Linked DNA regions of Homo sapiens. The protein of the gene in region 1 interacts with the protein of each later gene in a pairwise test. Each region holds a gene or a part of one and is shown on either strand. Other genes may lie near its edges. The genes, in order: BRI3BP and LETMD1.

Evidence for each region.
Region 2: the proteins of BRI3BP (region 1) and LETMD1 interact in binary tests that used the Homo sapiens proteins (3 or more experiments, as listed by UniProt).

What each region holds. Positions count from the first base shown.
Region 1 is NC_000012.12:125,019,991-125,035,509, reverse strand, and holds the end of BRI3BP (BRI3-binding protein precursor), read right to left. Parts: intron 10,520-15,519; coding exon 10,080-10,519; 3' UTR 4,279-10,079; downstream 1-4,278. UniProt on the Homo sapiens protein: Involved in tumorigenesis and may function by stabilizing p53/TP53.
Region 2 is NC_000012.12:51,040,367-51,056,254, forward strand, and holds the start of LETMD1 (LETM1 domain-containing protein 1), read left to right. Parts: upstream 1-7,960; 5' UTR 7,961-7,990; coding exon 7,991-8,112; exon of another isoform or gene 8,113-8,646; coding exon of another isoform or gene 8,647-8,667; coding exon 8,668-8,819; intron 8,820-11,721; exon of another isoform or gene 11,722-11,725; coding exon 11,726-11,841; coding exon of another isoform or gene 11,842-11,880; intron 11,881-13,411; coding exon 13,412-13,494; intron 13,495-15,468; coding exon 15,469-15,655; intron 15,656-15,777; coding exon 15,778-15,879; intron 15,880-15,888. UniProt on the Homo sapiens protein: Plays an essential role for mitochondrial structure and function, as well as thermogenesis of brown adipocytes.

The DNA.
Region 1 (15,519 bases):
AAGCATGAGAACTGCCTGAGCCTGGGAGGTCAAGGCTAAAGTGAGCTGTGATTGCACCACTGCACTCCAGCCTGGGCAAGAAAGCAAGATCCTGCCTCAAAAAAAAAAAAAAAAAGACAATACCTATTAGTAAGTGAATGTTTTGGGTGAAAACAGCTGATCATACCAACTGTCGGTGAGGCTATGGAGGAACTGGAATTCTCACACACAGTGGGTAGGAATGTAAAATGCTACAACCACTTTGGAAAACAATGTCTTAAAAAGTTAAACCTATACCCTCAATATAATCCAGCCATTCTGGTCCTAAGTATTTACCTGGGAGAAGTGAAAAGTATGTTCATACAAAGTCCTATACATAAGTGTTCATAGTCGCTTTATTTGTAATAGCCCCAAATAGGAAACAACCAAAAAGTCCATCAACAAGTGAATGGATAAGCAAATTGTGGTACATCCATACTATGGAATACTACGCAGCAATGAAAAAGAGTGAACTATTGATAAGGGCAACAACTGGGATGGATTTCAAAATAATTATATTAAGTGAAAGAAGCTGGGGGGTGGGCATGGGGAGACACATGCTGTTTCATCCCATTTACATAAAATGCTAGAAAATGCAAACTAGGGCCGGGCGCGGTGGTTCACGCCTGTAATCCCAACACTTTGGGAGGCCAAGGTGGGCAGAATACAAGGTCAGGAGTTCGAGACTAGTCTGGCCAATATGGTGAAACCCCGTCTCTACTAAAAATACAAAAATTAGCTGGGCGTGGTGGCAGGCGCCTGTAGTCCCAGCTACTTGGGAGGCTGAGGCAGGAGAATTGCTTGAAACTGGGAGGCAGAGGTTGCACTGAGCCAAGATTGCGCCACTGCACTCCAGCCTGGGCGACAGAGTGAGACTCCATCCCCAGCCCAAAAAAAAAAAATACAAACTAATGTCTAGTGACAGAGAGCAGCTCAAAGGTTGCCTGGGGATGGAGAGCAGTGAGAGGGACCCCAAAGGGCCCTGAGGTGATGGACATGTTTGCTATTTTGATTGTGGCAAGTTTGATGTCCATGGTGTACGCATATATGAAACGTTATCCAAGTTACATTCAAACATGTGCAGCTTATTGTATGTCAATTTTACATTGATAAAGCTGTTTTTGTTTTTCTTTTTTTAAAAAAAGGGGCTGGGTGCAGTGGCTCACGTCTGTAATCCCAACACTTTGGGAGGCCGAGGCGGGCAGATCACCTGAGGTCGGTAGTTCGAGAACAGCCTGACCAACATGGAGAAACCCCGTCTCTACTAAAAATACAAAATTAGCTGGGTGTGGTGGCACATGCCTGAAATCCCAGCTACTTGGGAGGCTGAGGCGGTAGAATTGCTTGAACCCAGGAAGCGGAGGTTGCGGTGAGCTGAGATTGTGCCATTGCACTCCAGCCTGGGCAACAAGAGTGAAACTCCGCCTCAAACCAAAACAAAACAAAAACAGCCTGGGTGGTGGCTCACGCCTGTAATCCCAACACTTTGGGAGGCCGAGGCAGGCAGATCATTTGAGGTCAGGGGTTCAAGACCAGCCTGGCCAACATTGTGAAACCCCATCTCTACTAAAAAATACAAAAATTAGCTGGGTGTGGTGGTGTGCGCCTGTAATCTCAACTACTAGGGAGGCTGAGGTGGGAGGATTGCTTGAACCGTGGAGATGGAGGTTGCAGTGAGGCGAGATCTCACCACTGCACACTAGCCTGGGTGACAGAATGAGACTCTGTTTCAAAAAAAAAAACAAAAAAAAACCAGAAAAACAAAACAGTACAGGGGGCCTTGGTTAGAAATAGGAGTGTAAACCAAAAAGTGACTGGGGCAGGTCTCAATGGATTAGTGGCTTATTTTGTCAAGGTTGACGCCGGGCCCAAGGAAAAGAAACATAAGTCACAGTAGGATCTGTGGCCTGTGCTGTTTCCAAAATGGGTTCTGAGGACTTAAATATTTAAAGGGGAATGCGCAAGCAGGAGGGGAAGGATGGAAGAAAAATGTGGGGAATGGTAGGCAGTGAGGCAGGGCTGAGTCTCACTCGGCTTTGACGAGCACTCATGAATCTACATTTTATGTATATTTATGTATTCATTTTTATCTATTTTTCTGAGACAGAGTCTCACTCCGTCGCCCAGGTTGGAGTGCAGGGGCGCCATCTCGGCCCACTGCAACCTCTGCTTCCTGAGCTCAAGTGATCCTTCTGCCTCAGCCTCCCAAAGTGCTGAGATTACAGGCTTGAGACACTACACCCAGCCCAAATCTACATTTTACACAAGATAAAGTAGGCAGCTATCTGTTTGGGAAGCAAAGGAAGGAAGTTTGTGTTTGTTTTTTTTGTTTGTTTGTTTTGTGGCTCAGTTCCCAAGCTTAACTTTGCCCTTGGCATAATGAGTTTGAGATCCCGAGATTCTATTTTTCCTTCATAGGTGCAAAGGGGCTGGTAGCAATGCCGCCAGCTGCTCTGGGGCTGCAGCGGGATTGGCAGCGGGCAGAAGGGGCAGTGGGAGATGGTGAGGCTGTAGCTGGTCAGGCTGGGGCAGGGTTCCCGGCACCCTCTAGGTCCGAGGAACACTGCCCTCGGTGACTTCTCCTGTGAAGTCTCATTCCTCTTGTACTTGACATTCCTCTTAATCCCCATCCGATAACCCACTCCCTCCTCCTCCTCGGCCTATGGTGTTTAATTCGAATGTTGCTTTCAATGCATTCTTACAAAATGATTATATTTTGAGATAGGATCTCACTCTGTTCCCCAGGCTGGAATGCAGTGGTGCAATCATGGCTCACTGCAGCCTCAACCACCTGGGCTCAAGCGATCCTCCCACGTCAGCCTCCCGAGTAGCTGGGACTGCAGGCACAGGCAGGCGCCACTGCACCCAACTAATTTATTTACTTTTCGTAGAGGCAAGTTCTCACTATGTTGCCCAGGCTGGTCTTGAACTCCTGGACTCGAGCGATTCACCTGCCTTGGCCTCCCAGTGCTGGGATGACAGGCGTGAGCCACTGCACCCGGCCACAAAATAGTAATTTTTTTTGTTTGTTTTTCAGACGGAGTTTCACTCTGTCGCCCAGGCTGGAGTGCAGTGGCGCGATTTCAGCTCACTGCAACTTCCACCTCCTGGGTTCAAGCAATTCTCCTGCCTTAGCCTCCCGAGTAGCTGAGACTACAAGCACTTGCCACCACGCCCGGCTAATTGCATTCTTAGTAGAGACGGGGTTTCACCATGTTAGCCAGGATGGTCTAGATCTCTTGACCTCGTGATCCGCCCGCCTCGGCCTCCCAAAGTGCTGGGATTACAGGCATGAGCCACCTCACCCGGCCAAAATGATTATTTTAATAGCAGGTATTGACTTTATTCAAATGAGCTGCCCCTCCTCATTCTGGTTTCCTTCTCACCCCACGCTGTTACTGTCATTACTACCTACTGCACGTCCTCCAGTGCCTCACCGCCCCCGCTCACCTGCCTGCTTTCCCAGTGACAGGCCACCCAGGCTGCCCCCAGATAACTTCACAATAACTAGCCTCAAATTGTCCCCTTATCGACCTATGTGAGATTGTCTTTGCGTAAAAAGCAGGAGCAGTACTCTTGGGTTAAGAGTAATTATACTTGGTCAAGGTAAATTATACTCCTGTTACATTTGCTCCTAAATGTTTACTAAGAATAGGATTTTTAAGGCTGGGCATGATGGCTCACGCCTGTTATCCCAGCACTTTGGGAGGCCGAAACGGGCGGATCACTGAGGTCAGGAGTTGGAGACCAGCCTGGCCAACATGGTGAAACCCCATCTCTACTAAAAATACAAAAATTGGCCGGACATGCTCGCTTGAGCCCAGGAGATGGAGGCAGCAGTGAGCTGAGATCTCGCCACTGCACTCCAGCCTGGGTGAGAGTCCATCTCAAAAAAAAAAAAAAAAAAAAAAAAAAAATAGAAAGAAAAGGATTGTTAGGACCTGAGAAAGCAGCATGGGTATGCGGGGTGGGGTGGAGAGGCACGCATCACTGTGCTAGGACTGTCAGATTTGGCAACTAAAAATACAGGAAACTTGCTTACATTTGAATTTCAGATAAGCAACCAACACTTCTACACTATACTAAAACACTACTGGTTGTTTATCTGAAATTCAAATTTAACTGGGCATCCTGTATTTTATCTTGCAACCTTACCTCCAACTGAATACATAAATTCAAGGTTTTATGACTCTTCTCAGATCGAGGAATAGAACCATAGAATCCTGGTTACACATCAAAACTGGGGAAACTCCACAAATGTTTGGTTAGAAGTGATGAGATATATTTTAAAAGTCCATACAACAAAATTACAATAAACATTTATTAAGCTGTAATTTTCACAATATTTTAATTCTGTTCTGAGATCTACAAATATCTCTACATAACACCAAAGCCAGTGATTTAATAAATAAGAGGAATGTATATATCGCTTTGCAAAAAAATGCCTGATACATTTATCTCTATATAAGATATTTGTAGAATCAGTTTCCCAAGGCTCACGAAACTAAAGTGCACACACACACACACACCATGTACACACACACACTATTCAAATCAAATGGATTTATATTAAGTGCCAAATTAAATGCTATACAAAATTTATAACCAGATACACAAAATATGAAGTCAATCATGAATCCACTGTTGATAATGGATACCATACCTCACAAGTGTGATTTCCAGTTAAGAAGAGGGAGACAATTGCTTCATTGGGTTTTTAGTGTGTGCTAATCACCATCACCATCACAAGTTAATCAGTTTAATTACATGGTATTCAGAGATTAAACACACATGCAGATATTAAATGGACACTACAATAAAACCTTTAAATCTGCAAAAAGACATGAGAACACATGGTCAATAATACCACTCGCTGCCACAGCTTTTCAGTAGACAATGCAAATGGCAATCAGCGTTTTAAGCCACCACAAGAGAAAAACTGGTACTGGTGCACCTCCTACATATCAAGGAAAAGCAAAACACAGAATAATTTAATATGCTGAATAAAATTTGTTTACACCAGATACTATACATCACACTGATGGTTGTCCAGTATGAATTTTAAGGGTATTATGTTAGATTCTGCAAAATATATTCCTATTATTCACAAGTGAGGAGTCAAAGTCCAACTATTCAAATGGCCATAAACAAAAATGTTGCAGAAGGTATAGACCATTAAAAATAAAAAAGTCAGGAGTGGGGCAGCTGACCCCTTAGGAGCCTCAGGAATTCCTTTTAATGCAAGATAGATGGCAAGAGCTGGCTTTTTGGTTAAGTCAGCCAGTTCGGAAACCCATCAGGGAGAAGTTATCAGGTGTCAACTTGTAAGGCAGATGACATTCATCAAAAGCATCTTAAGAAGTAGCAGTGATCACAGAAAGGAAGCAATTCAGGATTTCCACTAGCAACAAATTGCATTAACCATGTCTAGGCCATTTGACAGCTGTTATTCTTAACGCTCCATAAGCCTGAATCACAGGGCCAGATGAGCGACTAAGCTGCTCACATCCTCTCTACAAGGCAGCCCTCCCGGGCATGCACAAAGTCATATTATAGTCTTCCTAATCACTGACCCAAACCTTTGCGTTCTTACTCAGCTCCCCAGAGGGGACCACCCCACTTGGTTACCACCATCACAGTCATAAAGACATAGTCCCAGTTCCCTGACATCGCTGCCTCCCGACTCCTGCATGAGACAGGCTCTCATTTCTGGGGTAAGTGTATGAAACACCTTTCAACGGCATTCACTTACCCTTTGTGAATTAAGACACAGGCACGATTCACAAGGTCTGCTTCCCAGAAATTCTATTGCTGTGCTCTGTTACCAGAAATGATATGGGGGCTGAAATCCAAAGCAAAAGAAACCAAAGGGCGGGTAATGCCGACTGGTATTGGAAAGTGTGTGTGTGTGTATATATATATACATATATATACACACACACACACTTTTTTTTTTTTTTGAGACTGGGTCTCACTCTGTCGCCTCAACTGGAGTACAGTGGTGTGATCTCAGTTCACTGCAACCTCTGCCTCCCAGGTTCATACAATTCTCCCACCTCAGCCTCCTGAGTAGCTGGGACTACAGGAACCCACCACCACACCTGGCTATTTTTTTTTTTTTTTTTTTTTTTGTATTTTTTGGTAGAGACGGGATTTCACTATGTTGGCCAGGCTGGTCTCGAACTCCCGACCGCAAGTGATCCACCCGCCTTGGCCTCCCAAAGTGCTGGGATTACAAGCTTGAGCCACTGCACCCAGCCTGGAAAGTATATTTATGAAAGGTTTGCACTCCACAAAAGCATCTTTGCTAGGGTGTCAAGGAAGAGATCACTAAACCAACCCCAACACATCCATACAATTCCAGCAATCTAGAGAGGGCTGGTCCTTTTCCTTTTCTGGATTATTTTCTGTTCTCAGTAAAACAAGTATTTACTGTGATACTGAAACACTGGGAAATTAACACTGATTAAGATATTTTAAACACTGAGTCTTAATTATAACAGAACCAGTTTTCATCAGAATGCTTTTACGTCACATTCAGTGAAGTGTTACGCTAATATATTCTACAGCCCTGAAGATAGAAAAAAGGTTTCTCTCCAGGTATGAGATATGGTACAAAAATACATTTTTCCACATACAAAAGAGAGAAAAAAACAAAGACATGTGGCGGGTGGCGAGGGGAGGCCCAATCCCAACACCCTACAAGGTTCCATGGAATGGAGAAGGAACAAAAAAATCCCCAATTATTTTGGGGTAAGATGTGCCCCAGAAAAGGTGAAATCTATGCAATAAAACCCAGGTTTTCTTCAAATCTAGCATCTAGGATTTCTATCAGAGTTTCAAATAATCAGAATTTCTATCAGAATTTCTACCCTGAGGTGACACCTACTAACTGTAGGTTCTTTCATTAAAAATGAAGACATCTTTCACCAGAATGTATCAAGCTATAAAACTGGCTTCAGAGCCTACACTTAGCCAGAGTGGAAAAAAAAAATAGTGCATATTTTCGACAGCAATTTTGAATTGATGCTTGAGGTCTCAATCCACCAGCACCCAGATATCATGTTACCTCCCTCAGTTGAATACAAGTTAAAATGATGATCTTATCGAGATCTCAATAGAGCACAGTGCCCTTCATGTTTCGGGTAAGAGGGTGGGAGGAGGAATGAAGCGGGTATTACACCCAGCCCAGTGACAGCTTAAGCCTTAACATGCGGGCATCTTACAATGACCATAAACAAGGGAGGGGCCAAGGCAGGGCTGGCGATCATTAGCTTTGCGCACAGAATGCCATGTTTTCCCCTGGCCAACATAAGCAAAGCTGTTTTAGTACCTAAACGTGGTATAGCCAAATGCACAAAAGGAAAGAAGATAGAGATGACCTCCCGAGTTATTTATACCTTGTGCTAAAATAGATTCATCTACAAGTATCTAAATGACAAAACTAGAATGATTTCAACCCAGTAATCCTGTGTTCCAATGTGCATGGATAAAGATTTGATCTAGGCCCAGCGCGGTGGCTCACGCCTGTAATCCCAGCACTTTGGGAGGCCGAGGCGGGCGGATCACGAGGTCAGGAGATCGAGACCATCCTGGCTAACACGGTGAAACCCCGTCTCTACTAAAAATATAAAAAATTAGCCGGGCATGATGGTGGGCGCCTGTAGTCCCGGCTACTTGGGAGGCTGAGGTAGGAGAATGGCGTGAACCCAGGAGGCGGAGCTTGCAGTGAGCCGAGATGGTGCCACTGCACTCCAGCCTGGTTGACAGTGAGACTCCATCTCAAAAAAAAAAAGATTCGATCCAGCAAATAATTTTTTTTGAGACGGAGTCTCACTCTGTTGCTGAGGCTAGAGTGTGGTGGTATGATCTCAGCTGACTGCAACCTCCGCCTCCCATGTTCAAGCGATTCTCCAGCCTCAGCCTCCCAAGTAGCTGGGATCACAGGCGCCCACCACCAGGCCTGGCTAATTTTTGTATTTTTAGTAGAGACGGGGTTTCACTCTGTTGGCCGGGCTGGTCTCAAACTCCTGACCTCAGGTGATCCACCTGCCTTGGCCTCCCAAAGTGTTGGGATTATAGGGGTGAGCCACCCTGCCCAGCCTGCTCCAGCAAATCTTAAATATCCATGCACACTGAATAAACATGCACCTGAAACAGGTGCACGTTTCAGGAAGTGAATGGAACTCTCCAGGAGAGTTTGGGTCCCATCATGTGTACCTTAGAAACAGAAGTCTCAAAAGTCTCAACAACATCCACAAAAACATCTGCATCTGTTTTCCAGATACTTGCAACCAAAAATAAAACTTCACAGGAACACTACACAAGAAGTGGTAGACAGCTAAATCTTCTCCAAACTGAGACCTGGACCATAAGGTCTTGGTTGTAGCAGGTCTGGCAGGGGTTATCTATAAACCTGCACGCAGGGCACTGTGAGCGGGTTGCCAGGGTACATCTGTGGCCAGGTAAGGGCCACAGAGACAGTCGTGATCCCCAGCAGCTTCAAAGCTGCAAAATGCTGGGCTTTTTTTTTTTTTTTTAAGATGAAGTCTTGCTCTGTTGCCTAGGCTGGAGTGCAGTGGCGTGATCTCGGCTCACCGCAACCTCCACCTCCCAGGTTCAAGCAATTCTCCTGCCTCAGCCTCCTGAGTAGCTGGACTACAGGCACCCACCACCATGCCTGACTAATTTTTGTATTTTTAGTAGAGACGGGGGTTTCACCATGTTGGCCAGGCTGGTCTTGAACTCCTGACCTCAGGTGATCCATACTCCTCGGCCTCCCAAAGCGCTGGGATTACAGGCATCAGCCACTGCGCCTGGCCTAGGGCTTTCTTTTTTAAAAAACAAGTCCTAACAAAAGGGGGTTTCTACCAGCCCCTGAGCCACACCTTCTGAAACTCCCTTGCCCAGGATCCCCACAGCTGTCCACCTCGCAAGTCCCACTCTCTGCCCACAGAGACTGCCTAAAAGGAGGACACAACAGATTTCAGATAAAAAGCACCTGTGTATCGTAAATATTTCAGGAAAAAGAATTCAGATCTTTTCAAAGGCTTGCTTATTGCTGCTAATTGTTCCTGAGGATCTTTCTAAGCAGCAATATACTTGAGAATATTAGCTGCTACTGTTTGTTTTCCCTCTAAGGTCCTGAGGAAATCAAAAGAAAAAAAAAAAAACCCTCAAGGGTATAGCTTTTGTATATAGCCCTAGTGAGCAAACTGCAAATTGGGACATGCAGTAGATTCTGGAGCAATCTCCAATCCTTACCAGGTACTTCCTGGCATCAAATCCCCAGGACATTTCTTGGCCCCTCCTTGCATTTTCCGTTTCAAAATGTTGAGGTTAAAATACATCGAAGCACAGAGGGAAGAAAATCTCAGGTCTTCTAGAAATGGCGATGTCTTCATTTAAAAATAGGACTGATGGGGGCTTGGCAGGGGTCTCTAGGATCCAAAAGAGGTTGAGTTGCATCCTGCAGCCCAACTGTCCACATTTAGAAGTGACAACATTCATGAACTAAGTCAACATCCACCAAAAATAACATGAAATAAAGCTCACAGTTTGGGAACATGAAAATAACGCACACAGACCTCACCCACCAATCCCTAAGCTGTGAAAACAAACGCTCGCATTTAAACTTTTCTCAAATGTCAAATTAGCATATTCTTCCCCTCCATGTAAAGTTTTAATAAACTTGACTCAATCTGCCTTTATTAAAAAACCTTACAAAAGATGTATTTAAATGCTTGAAAAAATTAACTTTATGCTCTATGCACAGATAAATTTCTCTTACTGTACAACTAAATATGGTTATATCCTTTGTTTAAAAAATATTTTTTCCCCCACTAATTACACTTCGTGTGTAGTTCCACGTCAATGATCTTTCCGCTCTTCTGGGAATGTGTCCTAAGAGCTGCCGGGTGGGTGGAAATAGCCCTACACAGCGCCACTTTCTTGCTCAGTCGTGTTTATTAAGATTGTTTGGGGTTTGGGGTTTTTTTCCTCCGTTTTCGTTTTCTGAGACAGCGTGCTGGTAACTGTGGACCCGCCCGGCCGGCTGACCTTCACTTGTCCTTGGAGCGGTCCAGGCTCTCGAGCACCCGGTTGAGACGGATGTTGAGCAGTCTGACCTGCTTCTCCAGGTGCTCCAGCTTCTCCTCCACGCTGGGGTTGCTGGGGTTGCTGGGGCCGCTGGGACTGCTTCGCCAGTAGAAGCCCATGGGCCCGGTCATGAAGTAGACGGCCACCACGAAGCACAGCGGCAGCACCGCGTTCTCCGGCTCGCCCTCGTACTTGTGCAGGATGTACACGCAGGACATGGAAAACAGGACGACCCGCACGATCCAGAAGAAGCGGCCGAACACCACGTGCAGGACGCTGAAAGTGAAGCCCAGGGTCAGGGACAAGAACCAGTAGGCCAGGAGGACGACGCCGACCAGCAGGAGCGCGCGGGCCGGGCTGCTGGACACCGAGGCTGGGCTGAAATACTGGGACAGGTTGGAGACTGCGGGACAGAAAAGAGGAACAGGGCTCGTTACGCAGGGGCCAGGGGTTTCTTAACAAGCTAGAATTGGATAGTTGAGCTGGCCTGTGGGGCTTAAAAGGCCTTTGCAACAACCAAAGGAACTCAAGGAAGTTCCTCTGTGAATAGTCACACTTTGCTCCATGAGGACACACAGGGAAGCCTCTTTTTTTTGAGATGGAGTCTTGCTCTGTTGCCCAGGCTGGAGTGCAATGGTGTGATCTCGGCTCACCACAACCTCCGCCTCCTGGGTTCAAGCAATTCTCCTGTCTCAGCCTCCGGGGTAGCTGGGATTACAGGCATGCGCCACCACACCCGGCTAATTTTGTATCTTTAGTAGAGACGGGGTTTCTCCATGTTAATCAGGCTGGTCTCGAACTCCTGACCTCAGGTGATCCACCTGCCTCGGCCTCCCAAAGTGCTGGGATTACAGGCATGAGCCACCATGCCCAGCCAGGGAAGCCCTTTAAGACGACCTGCCATGTTGAGTTTTAAAAACCTCTCCATATACTGGTTTCTCTTCAAATCATATACATCTTTCACCTTTAGCCTGGGCAACATAGTGAGACCCTGATATGGACTGGCTCTGTGCTCCCACACAAATCTCATCTTGAATTATAATCCTCACGTGTGGAGGAAGGAACCTCGTGGGGGGTGATTGGATCATGGGGGTGGTTTCCCCATGCTGTTCTTGTGACAGTGGAGGGGGGGGGGTTTCATGAGATCTGATGGTTTAAGTGTTTGGCAGCTGCCCCCTTTGCTCTCTCTTTCTCTCCTGCTGCCTTGTGAAGAAGGTGCTTGCTTCTCCTTTGCCTTCTGCCATGATTATAAGTTTCCTGAGCCACGCAGAACTGTGAGTCAATTAAACCTCTTTTATTTATGCATTACCTAGTCTCAGGTTTTTTGGTTTTTTTGTTTGTGTTTTTGAGGTTGGAGTGCAGTGGCACAATCTTGGCTCGTTGCAACCTCTGCATCCCAGGTTCAAGCAATTCTCCTGCCTCAGTCTCCCAAGTAGCTGGGATTATAGGCACATGCCACCACACCCAGCTGATTTTTGTATTTTTAGTAGAGATGAGGTTTCACCATGTTGGCCAGGCTGGTCTTGAACTAGTGTCCTCAAGTGATCCACCTCCTCAGCCTCCCAAAGTGCTGGGATTACAAGTGTGAGCCACTGCGCCTGGCCTCGGGTATGTTTTGATAGCAGTGTGAAAATAGACTAATACAGACCCAATCTCTAGAGAACACAAATTTTAAAAAAATTAGACAGGTGTGGTAGCACACACCTGTAGTCCCAGCTACTCAGGAGGCTGAGGTGGGAGGATCACTTGAGGCTGGGAGGTAGAGGCTGCAGTGAGCCATAATGTGCCACTGCACTCCAGCCTGTGTGACAGAGTAAGACTTTGTCTCAAAAGACAACTTTCACCTTTTACTAAAACACCTCTGGAAGTGGGGCATAGCCTGCAAATTGTCCTTCAATTTCCATAGTAACAAATGCCCACCTTCAGGCTGGGCACACAACTACCTAGGATTAAAGCATTTCCTAGCCTCTCTTGCAGCTACATAACTAAGCTTTGGCCATGTGTTCCCTAAAAGTAGCAGGAATGTGTCCTTTACCTCTTCTGCCTGCTGGAACATGGATACAATGGCTGGAACTGGAGCAGCCATTTTGGAAGGCACTCATGGAGGAACAATAAAATGGAAGGTGCTTTGGTCCAGAGCACCACATGCATCAGAGCCATCAAACCCGCCTCACCACCTCCCTGAGAACTTTCATATAAGAGGGAAATAGGTGTCCATCTTGGTTAAGCCAATGTTATGTTGGATTTCTGTTTCAGCCAAACCTGATCCTAACTGGTACCCACACACGAAGTTCCATCTCAAGAATGCAGTGAAATGTAAGAGTAGCATCTTCTGTGTGCCTGACTTGAAGAAATTCAAACAAAAAAGTTAAAAGAACAGTAGAATATTCCTTTTGAAACCAACTAGACTGAACAATTATTAAAAATTCTGAATGTTGCATTCTCTATTTACATACTTTTTAGATTAACCCATTTGAAAGATGTACACATCATACTTCATCATACATCTAAGAATAAAGACATCATTCACCTCAAAACCATGATACTATCATCATTCTAAGAATATTAACAATTCCAGGCTGGGCACGGTGGCTCATGCCAGCATTTGGGAGGCCAAGGTGGGTGGATCACCTGAGATCAGGAGTTTGAGACCAGCCTGGCCAACATGGTGAAACCCCATCTCTACTAAAAATATAAAAATTAGCTGGGCGTGGTGGCGCACACCTGTAATCCAAGCTACCTGGGAGGCTGAGGCACGAGAATCGCTTGAACCCAGGGAGGCAGAGGTTGCAGTGAGCCAATGGCGCCACTGCACTCCAACCTGAGACACAGTGAGGCTCTGTCTCAAAAAATAAATAAATAAATAAATAAATAATAAATTAACAATTCCATATAACATCACTTGAATTTCTCAGTTATCCAGGAATAGCTGTTTCCTCCCAACCCTCACCAGGACCCAGCGACAGTTCACGTTCAGCATTTGCCATCACTTTAGTCTCCATTAATTGAGAAGAGACCCATGACATTTTAGAAACACTGAAATTCTGAAGTCTAATTTTTCCAGGATGGTTTTCTTGCAGGAGGTCCCACATGCTGCAATTGTTTGTTTCCTGACAGTGTTGTTTAATGAGTTCAAGGAGAGTTATATCCTAAGCCTTCTCACACAAGCAGTTCTCAAACTTGTGTGATTCCTCCAGGAATCCCCTGGAGGGCTTAGGAAAACAGGTTGCTGGGCCCCACCCCCAGGACATCTGATTCAGTAGGTCCTGGGTGGGCCCAAGAATCTGTGGTCTTTTTTTTTTTTTTTTTTTTTTAAGACAGGGTCTTTTTCTGTCACCCAGGCTGGAGTGTGATGGTGTGATCTCGGCTCACTGCAGCCTTGACCTTTTGGGCTCAAGCGATCCTCCCACCTCAGACTCCCGAGTAGCTAGGACTATAGGCATGCACCACCACAGCTGGCTAATTTTTGTATTTTTTTGTAGAGACAGTGAAGTGGTTTGGTTCTGTGTTCTCACCCAAATCTAATTTCAAATTGTAATCCCCACGTGTCCAGGGAGGGACCTGGTAGGAGGTGATTGGATCGTGGAGGTGGTTTCCTCCATGCTATTCTCATGAAAGTGAGTGAGTCTCACGAGATCTGATGGTTTAAAAGTGTTTGGCAGTTTACCCCTCGCTCTTGCTTCCTCTCTCCTGCCACCACGTAAGACGTGCCTTGCTTCCCCTTTGCCTTCCGCCATGATTACAAGTTTCCTGAGGCCTCCCCAGCCATGTGGAACTGTGAGTCAATTAAATCTCTTTTATTTATAAATTACACAGCCTCAGGTAGTTCCTTATAGCAGTGTGGAAACCAGCAAATACAGATAGGATCTCGCTATGTTGCCCAGGCTGGTCTCGAACTCCTGAGCTCAAGCAACCTGCCTGCCTTGGCTTCCCTAAGTGCTGGGATTATAGGTGTGAGGCACCACGCCCAGCCAAAGAGGACCAAAGTGTGACACAACGATCTGGAGTGGGCAAGCGCAAATCCAGAGCAGGCCTGAGATGGGAAGCCTCAACCCTGGAGCTCCTCCGGTCAATAACGACACCTACGGCGTGAACATCTCATAGTTCCCCAAAATGATCAGACTCCGCACAGCTGGCCAGTGTCTAGAGTCCAACACTGTAAACAGCAGCCATCTCTGGGACTAAAGGCTTGGGGTCACCAGGACTCCCCAGAAGCCAGAGTGTGTTTGCTACACTGTGCCTTCCTGAGGCATCGTGAGCATTTTGACTAAATGTGGTTGACTTGGGAGCTGACTTTCACACCTGTCCCCTGCAGACTGGAGGCTAAACCAGTGTTTCCCAGACCTCTCAGTCTCAAGACCGTTTGCACTCTTCAGTATTATTGAAGCGTCCCCAGAGCTTTCGTTTATGTGGGTTCTACCTAACTGATATATTTTCCATAGCAGAAAATTAGGTAGTTTTTAATTAGTTGTTAATTATCTTTTAAATTTTATTATTTATTTATTTATTTATTTGAGACAGAGTCTTGCTCTGTAGCCCAGGCTAGACTTCAGTAGCATGATCTTAGCTCATTGCAACCTCTACCTCCTGGGCTCAAGCGATCCTCTCACCTCAGCCTCCCAAGTAGCTGAGACTACAAGCATGCACCACCAAGCTAATGTTTTGATTTTTTGTAGATACAGGGTCTCACTGTGTTGCCAAGGATGGTCTCAAACTCCTGGGCTTAAGCAATCCATCTGCCTCAACCTCCCAAAGTGCTGGGATTACCAGATGAGCCACTGTGTCCAGCCATTGTTAATAATTTAAAAACATTGCTATCATTAACTCATTTTCAAATAACAACCCATTACAGATGCTAGGCTTTGAGTATTTGTGTCCCCCACAAAATTCCTATGTTGAAATCCTAACCCCAAAAGTGATGGTCTTAGGAGGTGGGGTCCTGGGGAGGTGATCAGGTCGTAGGGGTGGAGCCCCCATGAATGGGTTTAGTGCCCTTATAAAGAGGTCCCAGAGAACCGCCTTGTTCCTTCATGTGAGACACAGTGAGGCATCGTCTACAAGAAAGGGCTCTCCCCACAGCCTGCATCTGCCAGTGCCTTCATTTTGGACTTCCTGCCTCCAAACTGTAAGAAATGAAAATGTCTGTTAGGCCGGGCACGGTGGCTCATGCCTGTAATCCCAGCTCTTTGGGAGGCCAAGGTGGGCAGATCATCTGAAGTCAGGAGTTCGAGACCAGCCTGACCAATATGGCGAAACCTTGTCTCTATTAAAAAAAATACAAAATTAGCCGGGCATAGTGGTGCATGCCTGTAATCCCAGCTACTCAGGAGGCTGAGGCAGGAGAATCACTGGAACCCGGGAGGCTGAGGTTGCGCCACTGCACTCCAGCCTGGGCAACAGAGA
Region 2 (15,888 bases), about 74 Mb from region 1:
ACGCCTGTAATCCCAGCACTTTGGGAGGCCGAGGCAGGTGGATCACTTGAGTTCAACACCAGCCTGGGCAACAGGCCAGGCTAGAAACCCTGTCTCTACTAAAACAAAATTAGCCAGTCGGGCATGGTGGTACATGACCTGTAGTCCCAGCTACTTGGGAGGCTGAGGCACCAGAATCACTTGAACTCAGGAGGTGCAGGTTGCAGTGAGCTGATATTCAGACACTGCGCTCCAGCCTGAGCAACAGAGCAAGACGCTGTCTCAATAAATAAATAAATAAATAAAACCCTTGGCCGGGTTCGGTGTGGTTCATGCCTGTAATCCTGGCAATTTGGGAGACTGAGGTAGGAGGGTTGCTTGAGGCCAGGAGTTTGAGACTGACCTGGGCAACATAGTGAGGCCTTGTCTCTACAAAAAAATTAAAACTCACTTAAAAAAAAAAATCCCTCTTTAAGACTGGGCCCAGTGGTTCACACCTGTAATCCTAGTCCTCTGGGAGATCAAGGTAGAAGAATCCCTTGAGGCCAGGAGTTTAAGACCAGCCTGGACAACATGGCAAGACCACCTCTCTATAAACAGATTAAAATACAAACAAAAACTCTTTCATTCTGGTATTTCCCCCCCAGTTCCTTGGGAAGAATAACTGTCCCGAATCAGCTTGTCAAATTTAGTGAATTAGTAACTAAAAGTGGCAAATCACTGCAGTTATTACCTCTGCTACAAAAAGAAACTTTACCTTTCCCTAAGGTTGCATTCTTCCATATCTTTGCACATATTGTTCCTTCTTTCTTCCTAGAAATGATACTCCCAGTGATACTTGGGTTTGGGGGCTCCAATCTTGTGCCATTTATTCCTACTACTTGTCTGCCAAGCAATCTCCAATTGACTCTCCACAACCTACTTCAAATCTGATGTTTCTTCACCTGGAAGCACCACTACTGCCACCACCATCAGAATTTATAAATTTACAGCCAGGCACAGTGGCTCACACCTGTCATCCCAGCTACTCAAGAGGCTGAGGCAGGGAGAAGTGCTTGAACCCAGGAGGCAGAGGTTGCAGTGAGCCGAGATCACACCATTGCACTCCAGCCTGGGTGACAGAGCGAGACTCTGTCTAAAAAAAAAAAAAAATTATGAATTTACTACTCCTTCAACTTTTTTTTTTTTTTTGAGACAGAGTCTCACTCTGTTGCCCAGGCTGGAGTGAAGTGGTGTGATCTTGGCTCACTATAATCTCCACCTCCCGGGTTCAAGCGATCCTCCCACCTCAGCCTCTAGGGTAGCTGGGATTATGGGCAAGCACCACCACGCCTGGCTAATATTTGTATTTTTGGTAGAGACGGGGTTTCACCACGTTGGTCAGGCTGGTCTCAAAGTCCTGACCTCAAAGATCTTCCCCCCTTGGCCTCCCAAAGTGCTGAGATTACAGGTGTGAACCACTGCACCCAGCTGCACATTTTAATGTAAGGCAATGCCTTACGTTTCCCAAGGAGAAGAACTAAAAGATAGTTTTTGGCCAACCTTTTATGAAGTAGTCAGATGTCTACTTTAAACATCTACTTAGTGGAAAATGTAAGTCTAATATTATTTAGCAACACATATTTTAAACCACATATAAAACATTTATTTAGAAATAATGCTTTTTCAGTCAAATTTTATATCATAATTTTATTCAAATCATCAATGTCATCATCATTCACGCCACTTTTATCGTTAACTAGCCCAATTTGCAGAGCAAGACATCCTTACATGTATCTAAGTTGAGGACAGTTTTTTTTTTTTTTAGTTCATGCTATGTTTGTATGTTCTTGGCTTATACAATATAATTTCTGTTTGTTTGTTTGTTTTTGAGATGGAGTTTTGCTCTTGTTGCCCAGGCTGGAGTGCAATGGCGTGATCTTGGCTTACTGCAACCTCCACCTCCTGGGTACAAGTGATTCTCCTGCCTCAGCCTCCCGAGTAGCTGGAATTACAGGCATGCACCACCACGCCTGGCTAATTTTGTATTTTTAGTAGAGATGGGGGTTTCTCCTTGTTGGTCAGGCTGGTCCCAAACTCCTGACCTCAGGTGATCCACCCGCCTCAGCCTCCCAAAGTGCTGAGATTACAGGTATGAGCCACTGCGCCCGGCATGTTTTTTGTTTTTTGGGTTTTACTGAAATAGATTCTGGGTTTGTCACCCAGGCTGGAGTGCAGTGGTGCAATCTCAGCTCACTGCAACCTCCGTCTCCCAGGTTCAAGCGATTCTCCTGCCTCAGCCTCCCGAGTAGCCAGGATTACAGGTGCTTGCCACCTCACCCAGCTAATTTTTGTATTTTTAGTAGAGACAGGGTTTCACCATATTGGCCAGGCTGGTCTCGATCCGCCTGCCTTGGCTTTTCAAAGTGCTGGTATTACAGCATGATCCACTGTGCCTAACCCTTTCTGGTTTTTTGTTTTGTTTTCTTGAGATGGAGTCTCCCTCTGTCACCCAGGCTGGAGTGCAGTGGCATGATCTCGGCTCACTGCAACCTCCCCCTCCCGGGTTCAAGTGATTCTCCTGCCTCAGTCTCCTGAGTAGCTGGGATTACAGGTGCACACCACCACGCCTGGCTAATTTTTGTATTTTTAGTAGAGACGGGATTTCACCATGTTGGTCAGGCTGGTCTCAAACTCCTGACTTCGTGATCCGCCCACCTTGGCCTCCCAAAGTGCTGGGATTACAGGCATGAGCCACTGTGCTCAGCCTCTGTAGTTTTTATTTTATTTTTGAGATGAAGTCTCACTCTGTCACCCAGGCTGGAGTACAGTGGCATGATCTCAGCTCACTGCAACCTCCACCTCCCGGGTTCAAGTGATTCTCCTGCTTCAGCCTCCAGAGTAGCTGGGATTACAGGCGTGTGCCACCACGCCCAGCTAATTTTTGTATTTTTGGTAGAGACGTGGTTTCACTATCTTGCCCAGGCTGGTCTCGAACTCCTGACCTCAAGTGATCATCCTCCTCAGCCTCCCAAAGTGCTGGGATTACAAATATGAGCCACTGCGCTTGGCCATATTCATTTAATAAATATTTAATAAGCCCCCCTTGTGTGCCAGGGACTGGAATACAGTGAGCTTAGACTCCTGTGGGGAAGATAGCCATGAAATGTATAATGACACAGCTAATTAATTATGATGTTAAGTACTATGAAAAATAAGTATAGCTAGCTACAAAGTGAGTAACAGGAACCTCAGTCTGTGGGGTTAAGAGTTTCCTGTAACAGAGCTGTTTATATACAGTGCAGCACTAACTCATATGCCCAGCCTGCCTGGGTTCAAATTCTGACTCAATCTTGAGCAGATTATTGAACCTCATTTTCCTCATGTATAAAGTGGAGCTAGGTCTGGCTTAGTGACTCACACCTATGTGAACCCAAAATATCTGAGACAGGTCTCAATCAATTTAGAAAGTTTATTTTGCCAAGGTCAAGGACATGACACAGCCTTAGGAGGTCCTGATGACACGTGCCCAAGGTGGTTGTGGCACAGCTTGGTTTTTCTTTTTTTTTTTTTTTTTGAGACAGAGTTTCGCTCTTGTTGCTCAGGCTGGAGGCAATGGCGTGATCTCGGCTCACCGCAACCTCTGCCTCCCGGGTTCAAGCAATTTTCCTCTCTCAGCCTCCTGAATAGCTGGGATTACAGGTGTATGTCACCATGCCCAGCTAATTTTTGTTTTTTTTTTTCTTTTTGAGATGGAGTTCCGTTCTTGTTGCCCAGGCTGGAGTGCAGTGGCGCAATCTCAGCTCACCACAACCTCCGCCTCCCGGGTTCAAGCGATTCTTCTCCCTTGGCCTCCTGAGTAGTTGGGATTACTGGTATACGCCACCAAGTCTGGCTAATTTTGTATTTTTAGTAGAGACGGGGTTTCTCCATGTTGGTCAGGCTGGTCTTGAACTCCCGACCTCAGGTGATCCACCTGCCTTGGCCTCCCAAAGTGCTGGGATTACAGGCATGGACCACTGCGCCAAGCCTAAGTTTTATATTTTTAGTAGAGACGGGGTTTCATCATATTGGTCAGGCTAGTCTTGAACTCCTGACCTCAGGTGATTTGCCTGCCTCAGCTTCCCAAAGTGCTGGGATTACAGGTGTGAGTCACTGTGCCCAGCCCACAGCCTTTTGTTTGTTTGTTTTTTGAGACACAGTCTCACTCTGTTGCCCAGGCTGGAGTGCAATGGTGTGATCTCAGCTCACTGCAACCTCCGCCTCCCAAGTTAAAGTGATTCTCCTGCCTCAGCCTCCTGAGTAGCTGCAGCTGGGATTATAGGCACGCACCACCATGCCCGGCTAATTTTTGTATTTTTAGAAGAGATGGGGTTTCACCATGTTGGCCAGGATGGTCTTGATCTCCTGACCTCGTGATTCGCCCGCCTCGGCCTCCCAAAGTGCTGGGATTACAGGCGTGAGCCACCGCGCCCAGTCGGAAACCTGAAAGGTTTTATAAAGAGAAATGACAAGCTTAGATTTGCAATTTTAAAAGCTCTCTCTGGTTACATACAACATGGAGAACTGGTTGGAGGGAGGACAAAACATATGGCAGGGAAACCAGTAAAGAGGCTGCTGTAGAAGTGGGGACCAGAGGCTTGCAGCTTAGCCTAGGGTGGTGGCAGAGAAGATAGAAGGAAGCTGGCTGATTGAAGAACAGCTAGAAGATAGAACCAACAAGATGCATGTGTGTGTGTGTGTGTGTGTGCGTGTGCACGCGCGTGTGTGTGTGTGTGTGTGTGTGTGTGTGTGTGTGTAGCGGGGGAAAGGGGGAAGAGGCCTAAACACTAAATAAATATCTCAGGAAAGGGCTGGGTGCAGTGGCTCAAGTCTGTAATCCCAGCACTTTGGGAGATCAAGGCAGGGGAATTGCTTGAGTCTAGGAGTTCAAGATCAGCCTGGCTAACGTGGCAAATCTCTATCTCTACTAAAAACACAAAAATTAGCTGGGCGTGGCGGCATGCGCCTGTAATCCCAGCTACTTGGGAGGCTGAGGTGAGAGGACCACTTGAGCCCAGGAGATCAAGGCTGCAGTGAGCCATGATGGGGCCACTGCACTCTAGCCTGGGCGACACAGCGAGACCCTATGAAAGAAAGAAAGAGAGAAAGAGAAAGAAAGAGAGGAAGGAAAGAAAGAAAAGGAAGGAAAGGAAGGAAGAGAAAGAAAGAAAAGTCTGAGGAATGACCTGTGTTCCTGCCACATTCTTTCATTGCATGAAATGCCTTCCCCTCTACTCCATCCTTTCAGACACAGTTCCTTCCTATTTTCTCCACAAAATTCTGATTTTGTCTCCTTTCCAAGAGAGTTCCAGAATTTTAGAGCTGAACATTCTTGAGTAGTTGACATGACTCAGAAGCTACCTGAAGATGGCTGGGCACGTTGGCTCACGCCTGTAATCCCAGCACTTTGCGAAGCTGAGGTGGGCAGATCACCTGAGTTCAGGAGTTCGAGACTAGCCTGGCCAACATGGTGAAACCGCGTCTCTACTAAGAATACAAAAATTGGACTGGGTGTGATGGCTCACACCTCTAATCCCAGCACTTTGGGAGGCCGAGGTGGGAGGATCACGAGGTCAGGAGATCAAGACCATCCTGGCTAACATGGTGAAACCCCGTTTCTACTGAAAATACAAAAAATTAGCCAGGTGTGGTGGTGGGCACCTGCAGTCCCAGCTACTCGGGAGGCTGATGCAGGAGAATGGTGTGAATCCGGGAGGCGGAAGTTGCAGTGAGCCGAGATTGCGCCACTGCACTCCAGCCTGGGCAACAGAGCGAGACTCCGTGTCAAAAAAAAAAAAAAAGAATACAAAAGTTGTCTGGGCATGGTGGCGGGCGCCTGTAAACCCAGCTACTTGGGAGGCTGAGGCAGGAGAATCACTTGAATCCGGGAGATGAAGGTTGCAGTGAGCTGAAATTGCGCCACTGCACTCCAGCCTGGGTGACAGAGTGAGACTCTGTCTCCAAAAAAAAAAAAAACAAAAAAAAAAACTACCTGAATATGAAGACCATGTCTTAGTCAACTTTTTTTTTTTTTTTTTTTTTTTTGAGACAGTCTCACTCTGTTGCCCAGGCTGGAGTGCAGTGGTGCGATCTTGGCTCACCTCAACCTCCGCCTCCTGGGTTAAAGCGATTCTCCTGCCTCAGCCTCCCGAGTAGCTGGGATTACAGGCGCCCACCACCACATCCGGCTAATTTTTGTATTCTTAGTAGAGATGAGGTTTCACCATGTTGTCCAGGCTGGTCTCGAACTCCTGACCTCGGGTAATCAGCCCGCTTCGGCCTCCCAAAGTGCTGGGATTACAGGCATGAGCCACGGCGCCCAGCCGTCTTAGTCAACTTTCTATCCCGTCCACCCCATCTACCCAACACTTGTGAAGATCCAGGGCCATCTTTTAAAACTTTTCCTCTGACTGCACGAGTGGTACAGTCATTAATAACCTGTGCTAATATAAAGCTCTGTGACCCATAAAGCATTATACAGATGTGGGAGCTTTCACAGCTGTATTCTCTTTGGATCCTCAAAGATTTCTTATAAAGTAGGTACTATTATAAGGGAAATAAACTCAGAGCTAAAGTGACATATCCAAGGTAACATTCACTAAAACAAACGTCAATGCCAAGATTGAACCTATATCCAGGGAACCCACATGGGATGCTCTACCACCTTCCATGAAGAATAAATATTCATATATATCCAAGAGGACTGTTAATTCTTGGAGGCAGTTAAGTACCACTTCTGGGAATCCTTCTTAGTTTCAAGTATGAATCTATTCAAACATGTTTACTGAACACCTACTATGTGCTAAGTAAGGCACCTAGTGTTGGAGGTGCAGCAATGAACAAGGCAGAGAAGATGCTTACCCTCATTCTAGTTCAGGGAGCTGTCAAACAAGGACACAAATACATAAACACTGTAAGTGACAGATGCTACAAAGAAAATACAAGGCCGGGTGCAGTGGCTCACGCCTGTAATCCCAGCACTTTGGGAGGCCAAGGCTGGCGGATCACTTGAGGCCAGGAGTTGAAGACCAGCCTGACCAACATAGTGAGATCCCGTCTCTACTAAAAATACAAAAATTAGCCGGGCGTGGTGGCGGACGCCTGTAATCCCAGATACTCGGGAGGCTGAGGCAGGAGAATCGCTTGAACCCGGGAGGCGGAGGCTGCAGTGAGCCAAGATCGCGCCACTGCACTCCAGCCGGGGCGACAGAGCAAAACTGTCACAAAAACAAAACAACAAAACAAAACAAAACAGAGTAACATGAGAATAAGTGTGAAGTGTGTCCTTTTCGCCGGCACTGCTTCAGATAGGGTGGTCACAGAAATCCTCTCAGAATAGTAACATTTAAGTTGAGACAGAGCTTGGTCTTCGGTAGGTGCTTAACGAAAACCATTTTCCCACAAACTTAGTTCTGGAAACGACAAAGAGAGGAAAAAGTGTACTCAGTCCGCACAGGGGCCGCTCCCAGGCCTCCAACCTTCGCCGCCAGACTGACTGGAAAGTGGACAGTTCCCGGCCTATCCACGCCGGCACCATTAGAGGGCGCCGCGGGTCCTCCTAGCCCCAGGCACTGGCAAACTGACATCTGCTACCTAACAGTCGAGGCTCCGACGCCCCGAGTCCAGGCAGAGGGCAAGGGCGGCGCTGGGAAGCCCTGAGGCCCTAAGGAATCGCGGAGGGTCACTGGGCGCCTCAAGGACAGGGTGCCCTCCGCGTCGCAAACCCACACCAGTGGCATAAGAACTCGCTCCCTCTGGGACACCCTGTTTCCGGCGCCTTTAAACCTGGAAGTACTGCTGTGTCCAATCCTGGCCCTCCTTCCGCACTTAGTCTTTGAGTCCTTCCCTCTCCTGGCTTGTGCTGGAGCCAAGCAGGCTATGGCTACCAATCAGCGCTCAGAAAAGACGCATGCGTCTTCGAACGAACGCGACGTACGGTTAACTTTGACCCAAAGACAACCTCTTCTCTCCCGCTTCTCTCGCTGTGAAGATGGCGCTCTCCAGGGTGTGCTGGGCTCGGTCGGCTGTGTGGGGCTCGGCAGTCACCCCTGGACATTTTGTCACCCGGAGGCTGCAACTTGGTCGCTCTGGCCTGGCTTGGGGGGCCCCTCGGTGAGGGACCTGTAGCGAGAAAAGCATTTTTGACGTCCAGGCTCTTTCAGTGTCTCAACCTTGCTTGCATTCTGTCTCTTAATTCTCAGAGTTCCACGCCTTGGCCCTGGAATTTTTATTCTTCTGTTCAGGATTCAAACTCCGATCCCCACTAGTGACCCGGCTTCCTGACCCTCTGTACTCTCAGTGCCCCATATTGTCTGGTTTCCCCGCGTGTCCTGAGCTCATCTTTCAGCCTCACTTTTTCGGCTCAGGTTTTACCGCTGCTATCTCGATTCCACCTCTTTCTGACTTAGCCTGCAGTTCAAATTGTCCCACAGGCATTGCGCTCTCTCCAGAGGCATACCCTGAGTTACTTTCCTGCCTGGCCTTTGCCTGATTTGTGTTTCACAGTCTGATTGCCTATCTCTTCTTGACCCCAAGACCTTCCTTGGATTTCAGAAGTGTCAAGCCTTGGGATACAATCTCCGAGACTCCTGCTTTACATTAGGGACTCAAGGCGTGAGGGAGCTTCTAGGACTGATTCCCAGATAGTCTCTTTGATCTTCCTTGTAGGTCTTCAAAGCTTCACCTTTCTCCAAAGGCAGATGTGAAGAACTTGATGTCTTATGTGGTAACCAAGACAAAAGCGATTAATGGGAAATACCATCGTTTCTTGGGTCGTCATTTCCCCCGCTTCTATGTCCTGTACACAATCTTCATGAAAGGTAAAAACGAAACTACAATAGAAATTCCGGAATCAGCTCTTGGGCAGGGTCAAAGAGTTAGCATAAATAAGATCATTTGCAGGTTCTGCTATGGGGATGTGAGCCGAGATATCTTATATTTCATAAATGCCTGCGCCTTAAACTAATTCCTATAAATTAGCACTTCTTGAGAATGTTTCTAGAAAGATGTTATGAGAAACAACTTATGACAGCAACATGAGGGAGGGAGAATATAGGTATGTTCTCGTACTTTCTTAACCACACACCTGGCTATAGTAGAAATTTTTTGCCTTGCACACGGCAGGGATCTGTGGCTGTATAGACCTGCCCTGTGATGTATCAGTTGACTTACCCATAGGAAAATGAGGTCTAACCCTTGTTATGAATCTATATTAGGTAGTATGTTGTAGTGGCAATAGCCCTACATAATACTTGGTTTCTAAATGTTTTGTTTCAAATCAGAGATCCTTAGTTACTAGGAGAAGATATGTATCGTGTCAAGTGTCTACTCTGGAGCCAGATTGCCTGATTCAAATCCCAGTTCGTCACTGTGCGATTGGACTAATTAATTAACCCCTCTTTCCTTGGTTTTCTTATGTGTAAAATGGGAGTAATGGAACCTACCTATTTATCACATGATTGTGAAGACTTTAAAAATTGATACATGTAAAGTACCTAGAACAGGTCCTGATCCCTAGTAAGTGCCAAGTAAATGTTAACTTATTTTCATCTAAATGTTACCTAACAGTATTATAAGTTGGTGCAAAAGTAATTGCGGCTTTTGGCTTTCAGTGGCAAAAACCACAATTGCTTTTGCACCAAATCTATAATATGCTCTATGCTTTTATCATAACACTATAATAAACTACATTGTCAAATCTGAACATTATCATAATTATTACTAGCTTCATGGACTTGAAAAATTACTTATCCTTAATTTGTAGAGATAAAATTGGCTGCTTTTTCTGTTTTCATGTAGATAAATAGGATCAAATGAGAGAAAGGGATGAAAGCATTTGTGTTTGTTTTTAAACTTTTTATTATGAATTTTTTTTTTTTTTGAGTCTCACCGTGTCGCCCAGGCTGGAGTGCAATGGCATGATCTCGGTTCACTGCAACCTCTGCTTCCCGGATTCAAGCAATTCTCCTGCCTTAGCCTCCCAAGTAGCTGGGAATACAGGCGCCTGCCACCACACCAGGCTAATTTTTTTATTTTTAGTAGAGGTGGGGTTTCACCATATTGGCCAGGCTGGTCTCTAACTCCTGACCTCGTGATCCGCCTGCCTCGGCTTCCCAAAGTGCTGGGATTACAGGCTTGAGCCACCGCGCCCGGCCAACTATTATGGAAATTTTTAAACACACACAGATGTAGAGAGAGTAGTGTAACAAACTTCCATGTATTAACCTCACTTCATTATCATAACTCATGGCTGCCAATCCTATTTATATACTTGCCTTATGTATTATTTTGAAGACAATCGAGACATCATATAATGACATGTAAATCATTGATAAATATGAAAGCATTAAAGAAATAGATGCAAGAAGCCGGGCGCGGTGGCTCATGCCTGTAACCCCAGCACTTTGGGAGGCCGGGGCGGGCGGATCATCTGAGGTCGGGCGTTTGAGACCAGCCTGACCAACATAGAGAAGCACCGTCTCTACTAAAAATACAAAATCAGCCAGGTATAGTGGCACATGCCTGTAATCCCAGCTACTAGGGAGGCTGAGGCAGGAGAATCTCTTGAACCTGGGAGACGGAGGTTGTGGTGAGCCAAGATCGCACCATTGCACTCCAGCCTGGGCAACAACAGTGAAACTCCCATCTCAAAAAAAAAAAGAAAAGAAAAAAATTAGATGCAAGAATTTTCATAAAATGAAAATTTAAAATGTAATCATAAAAATATATTGAACTAAACTACTTTAAAAAGTGTTCCAGGCTGGGCACGGTGGCTCACGCCTGTAATCCTAGCACTTTGGGAGGCCAAGGCGGGCGGATCATGAGGTCAGGAGTTTGAGACCAGCCTGGCCAACATGGTGAAACCCAGTCTCTATTAAAAATACAAAAATTAGCCAGGTGTGGTGATGGGCACCTATAATCCCAGCTACTCGGAAGGCTGAGGCAGGAGAATTGCTTGAACTCAGGAGGTGGACGTTGCAGTGAGCCGAGATTGCGCCACTGCACTCCAGCCTGGGCGACAGAGCAAAACTCCATCTCAAAAACAAAAATAAGTGTTCCAGGCCGGGCGCAGTGACTCATGCCTGTAATCCCAGCACTTTGGGAGGCCGAGGCAGGTGGATTGCTTGAGGTCAGGAGTTAAAGACGAGCCTGTCCACATGGTGAAACCCCATCTCTACTAAAAATGCAAAAATTAGCCAGGCATGGTGGCACACGCCTGTAATCCTAGCTACTTGGGATTCTGAGGTGGGAGAATTATATAAACCTGGGAGGTGGAGGTTGCAGTCAGCCGAAATCGCACCACTGCACTCCAGCCTGGGCAACAAAGTGAGATTCCATCTCAAAAAAAAGAAAAAAAAAGTTCCAGAAAGGAGATTAAATTAATATCTGGCTGGGGAATACATAGGGTTAATTTAGCAAGACTTTCTGAAGTTAGGGAGCTTGATTTTTAAAAAGGAGTGACCAGTGAAACAGAAGAGGGAGACCATTCCATAGCAGATTACAGAAGCCAAATGTAGCTAGAAGAGAGGCGATGTGCTAGGGGAAAAAATGTTGAGAAAAGAGATTCGAGTTGACCTCAGGAGTTTCAAGTTACCTAGTTTAAAGCTTTGAGTATCGTTGGGGAGGGGTGAGAGTGTTTGCATGTGATTGAACATGGAGTAGGAAGCTGTGGTTAAGATTTAAACTGGGATAACATCACACTCTGTCCTCTACTTTAATGAGGCAGGATTGCAGATGTTATGGGCTGATGCCAAAAAGGCTAGAAGAATAAAGACAAATATGTGGAAGCACAATATAAAGTTTCATCAACTTCCATACCGGGAGATGGAGCATTTGAGACAGGTATGGGCCAGGGGCAGATATCCAGAAGTTCATGGTGAGGTAATTACATTTAATCAAGATCTCAAGGTTTTTTCTTTCATTTGTTGTTCACCATTGATCAAGCTTTTGCCCTTTGCCGTGAGAACAAAATATTGAACTGAATGAGGCATCAGATTATTTGTAAGAATTGGGTTCATCCAGAGTTGTAGCCCTCCATAGCAAGAGCTCCATAGAATTTCTGGCACACTTTCTGAATGAAAGTTGTAAATACTAAAATCTAATTAGTTTCTGAACATAACAAAAGTCTGCAAGGGGGCTGGGCGCGGTGGCTCACGCCTGTAATCCCAGCACTTTGGGAAGCCGAGGCAGGCAGATCACGAAGTCAGGAATTCGAGACCAGCCTGGCCCACAAGGTCAAACCCCATCTCTACTGAAAATACAAAAATTAGCTGAGTGTGGTGGCGGGCGCCTGTAATCCCAGCTACTCGGGAGGCTGAGGCAGGAGAATCGTTTGAACCCGGGAGGCAGAGGTTGCAGTGAGCCAAAATCATGCCATTGCACTCCAGCCTGGGTGACAGGGCAAGACTCCATCTCAAAAAAAAATAATAATAAAATGAAAATAGAAGTCTGCAAGGGCAGCCAGGCACAGTGGCTCTCGCCTATAATCTCAGCATTTTGGGAGACTGAGGTGGGCGGATCACCTGAGGTCAGGAGCTTGAGACCAGCCTGGCCAACATGGTGAAACCCCATCTCTACTAAAAATTCAAAAATTAGCTGGGCATGATGGCAGGCGCCTGTAGTCCTAGTCCCAGCTACTCGGGAGGCTGAGGCAGGAGAATTGCTTGAACCTGGGAGGCGGAGGTTGCAGTGAGTGAAGATCGCGCCACTGCACTCCAGCCTGGGTGATAAGAGCAAAACTCTGTCTCAAAAAAAAAAAAGTCTGCAAGGATCCAAAGGGCAGCATGAAAGTAGTATTTGGTGGTGACTTGATGGGTCGTTTTGAAGCTGAGAGTAAGAATCTAGGACCCATTCCGCAGATCAGGAAGAGTTCACTGAAGGATTTGGTATAATGTCAGGCTCTGTACTAGACATTATTTGGGATACAAAAGTAAATAAGTCAGAGGTTTTGTCCTCAAGGAACTAACCATCCAGAAGTAAATAGAAATAAACTTGGGGACCACATGCAGTGCTCATGCCTGTAATCCTAGCACTTTGGGAAGCCAAGGCGGGCAGATCACTGGAGGTCAGGAGATTGATACCAGCTTGTCCAACATGGTGAAACCCTGTCTCGACTAAAAATACAAAAGTTAGCCTAGAGTGGCGGCTTATGCCAATAATCCCAGCTACTCGGGTGGCTGAGGCAGGAGGATCACTTGAACCCAGGAGGCAGAGGTTGCAGTGAGCTAGGATTGCACCACTGCACTCCAGCCTAGGTGACAGAGCAAGACTCCATCTCAAAAAGAAAAAGAAAGAAATTTGGTCCTTTTTCTGGGCTGTAATAGAAGTTTACTGTACAGTGGGGTGGATGGATTGTCTATTGTATTAACAACTTATTTGGGTTAAAACTGCATCTGTGTTTATTTCTGCTTAGTTCCGCCAAGACGTCACCAAGTGTCTTTTCCTAGGTATTATTTCCATTCCACCTTTTGCCAACTACCTGGTCTTCTTGCTAATGTGAGTACAGACTTCCATCTCCCCAACATCTTGAAGATGTATCAATTTTTTTAAATTAAGAATTACTTTAAACAGCACTCATTTCAGAAGATAGGCAGAGGTTATCAAACTTCTGCTCCAATCTTCTCATTATTCCAAGGTTCATAAAAACCACTTAGGAAGACCTTGGTTACTGTGACACATCACAGCTATAAGTGTAGGTGGCCTAGACTCTCCCTATCTCTTAGCTGCCCTGAGTCATGTGAAATAAGATAGTGACCTTCTCCATCATCCCTAGAGGCTCTCTCCCCGAGAGAGAGTACTTTTAGACTAATTTCTTTAGGAAAAGTACATTTCGTATTCTGATAACATTTTTATTACTTCATATCCAAAAATGACATTTCTTAACTGTGATCTTGCATGTCATTCATTATCTATTGCTGTATAACAAATAACTTCAAAGCTTAATAGCATAAAACAATCGTATAAATCATTTTCATGATTTTGTAGCTCAAGAATTAGGGCAGTGCTCAGGTGGGCAGTTGATTTCTCTCTTCCATATAGGGTTGACAGAGGTCCCTTAGTGATATTTAGCTGCTGAATGGACTAGTCTGGAAAGTCCAATATCACTCTTATGTCTGGTGCCCTGGCAGGGATGGCTACACGGCTAGAACTGTCAACCAGAGTGCCCAGATGTGGCTTCTTCAGTATGGCAGCCTCAAGATAGTGGGACTTCTAACTTGGGAGCTCAGGGCTCCAAGAGTGAGGGGTTCTAGTAAGAATCTACATGACTTTATAACCTTGTCTTGAAGGTCACATAGAGTCACTGCTGCTCTGTCCTATTGATTGAATCAGTCACCTAGAATGAAAAAAGGGCAGGATGTAGACCTCAGCTCTCCATGAGACAAGTGCCAGAGAATTTGAGGTCATGTTTTAAAACCACCAAACACGTAGATAAATAAATTAAAAAACAAATCGTGGCCAGGTGCAGTGGCTCACGCCTGTAATCCCAGCACTTTGGGAGGCCGAGGCGGGCAGATCACAAGGTCAGGAGATTGAGACCATCCTGGCTAACACAGTGAAACCCTGTCTCTACTAAAAATACAAAATACTAGCTAGGCGTGGTGGCGGGTGCCTGTAATCCCAGCTACTTGGGAGGCTGAGGCAGTAGAATCGCATGAACCCAGGAGGCAGAGGTTGCAGTGAGCCGAGATCGCGCCACTGCAGTCCAGCTTGGGTGACAGAGCGAGACTCTGTCTCAAAAAAAAAACAACAAATCAGTTGCCTTTTACATACTGGGTCCACATAAGGACTGTGCTATAGTTAGATTGTCAACATCACATATAGTGTCCTGGTCAGGCTGCAACTCTCTCCAAAGCATGCTCTTCACATGCTTTAGTTCAAAATGAGTCATTATATCTGATTGCTGCGTGGCAGGCTATTCTGCTAGTCCTTCCTTTCACATCCCATTTCAGTAATGGTGCTTGAAATTGTGCTTCAGTGTGTCTTATAAACTTTGGTCTGAGAGTCACTTAAGAGAAAGGGCTGACTGTAGTGGCTCTCACCAGTAATCCCAGCACTTGGGGAGACTGAAGCAGGAAGATTGCTTGAGACCAGGAGTTTGAGACCACCCTGGGCAATATAGCAAGACCCGTCTCTGCAAAAAAATTAAAAACTTAGCCAGGCATAGTGGCCTGTGCCTGTAGTCCCAGCTACTCAGTAGGCTGTGGTGGGAGGATTGCTTGAGCCTAGGAGGTCGAGGCTGCAGTGAGCTGTGATCTTGCCACTGTACTCCAGCCTGGGTGAGAGAGGGGACCCTGTCTCTTAAAAAAAAAAAAAAAAAAAAAAAAACTGAAAAAGAAAAAGAACACTGAGGTAGGGAAATAGTGTCTCCATCTCTTCTTCCTAGTATTCATGTCTACCAAATGCTTTCTTTGGCTTCCTCTGAAAGAAGCCAGTTTCAGCAAGTGAGTTTGTGATTCTTTCTCCTTTCAGGTACCTGTTTCCCAGGCAACTACTGATCAGGCATTTCTGGACCCCAAAACAACAAACTGATTTCTTAGATATCTATCATGCTTTCCGGAAGCAGTCCCACCCAGAAATTATTAGTTATTTAGAAAAGGTCATCCCTCTCATTTCTGATGCAGGACTCCGGTGGCGTCTGACAGATCTGTGCACCAAGGTATTCCTGCAGTTAACCCTTCCTACAAATGTGGAATCTTGTTAGATTCAGTGTGCACTAAACTAGGTAAGAGGAGTAGTCAGGACTTTCCTAACATCTACAAATCTCTTACCTCTTCCAAGATACAGCGTGGTACCCACCCAGCAATACATGATATCTTGGCTCTGAGAGAGTGTTTCTCTAACCATCCTCTGGGCATGAACCAACTCCAGGCTTTGCACGTGGTGAGCACT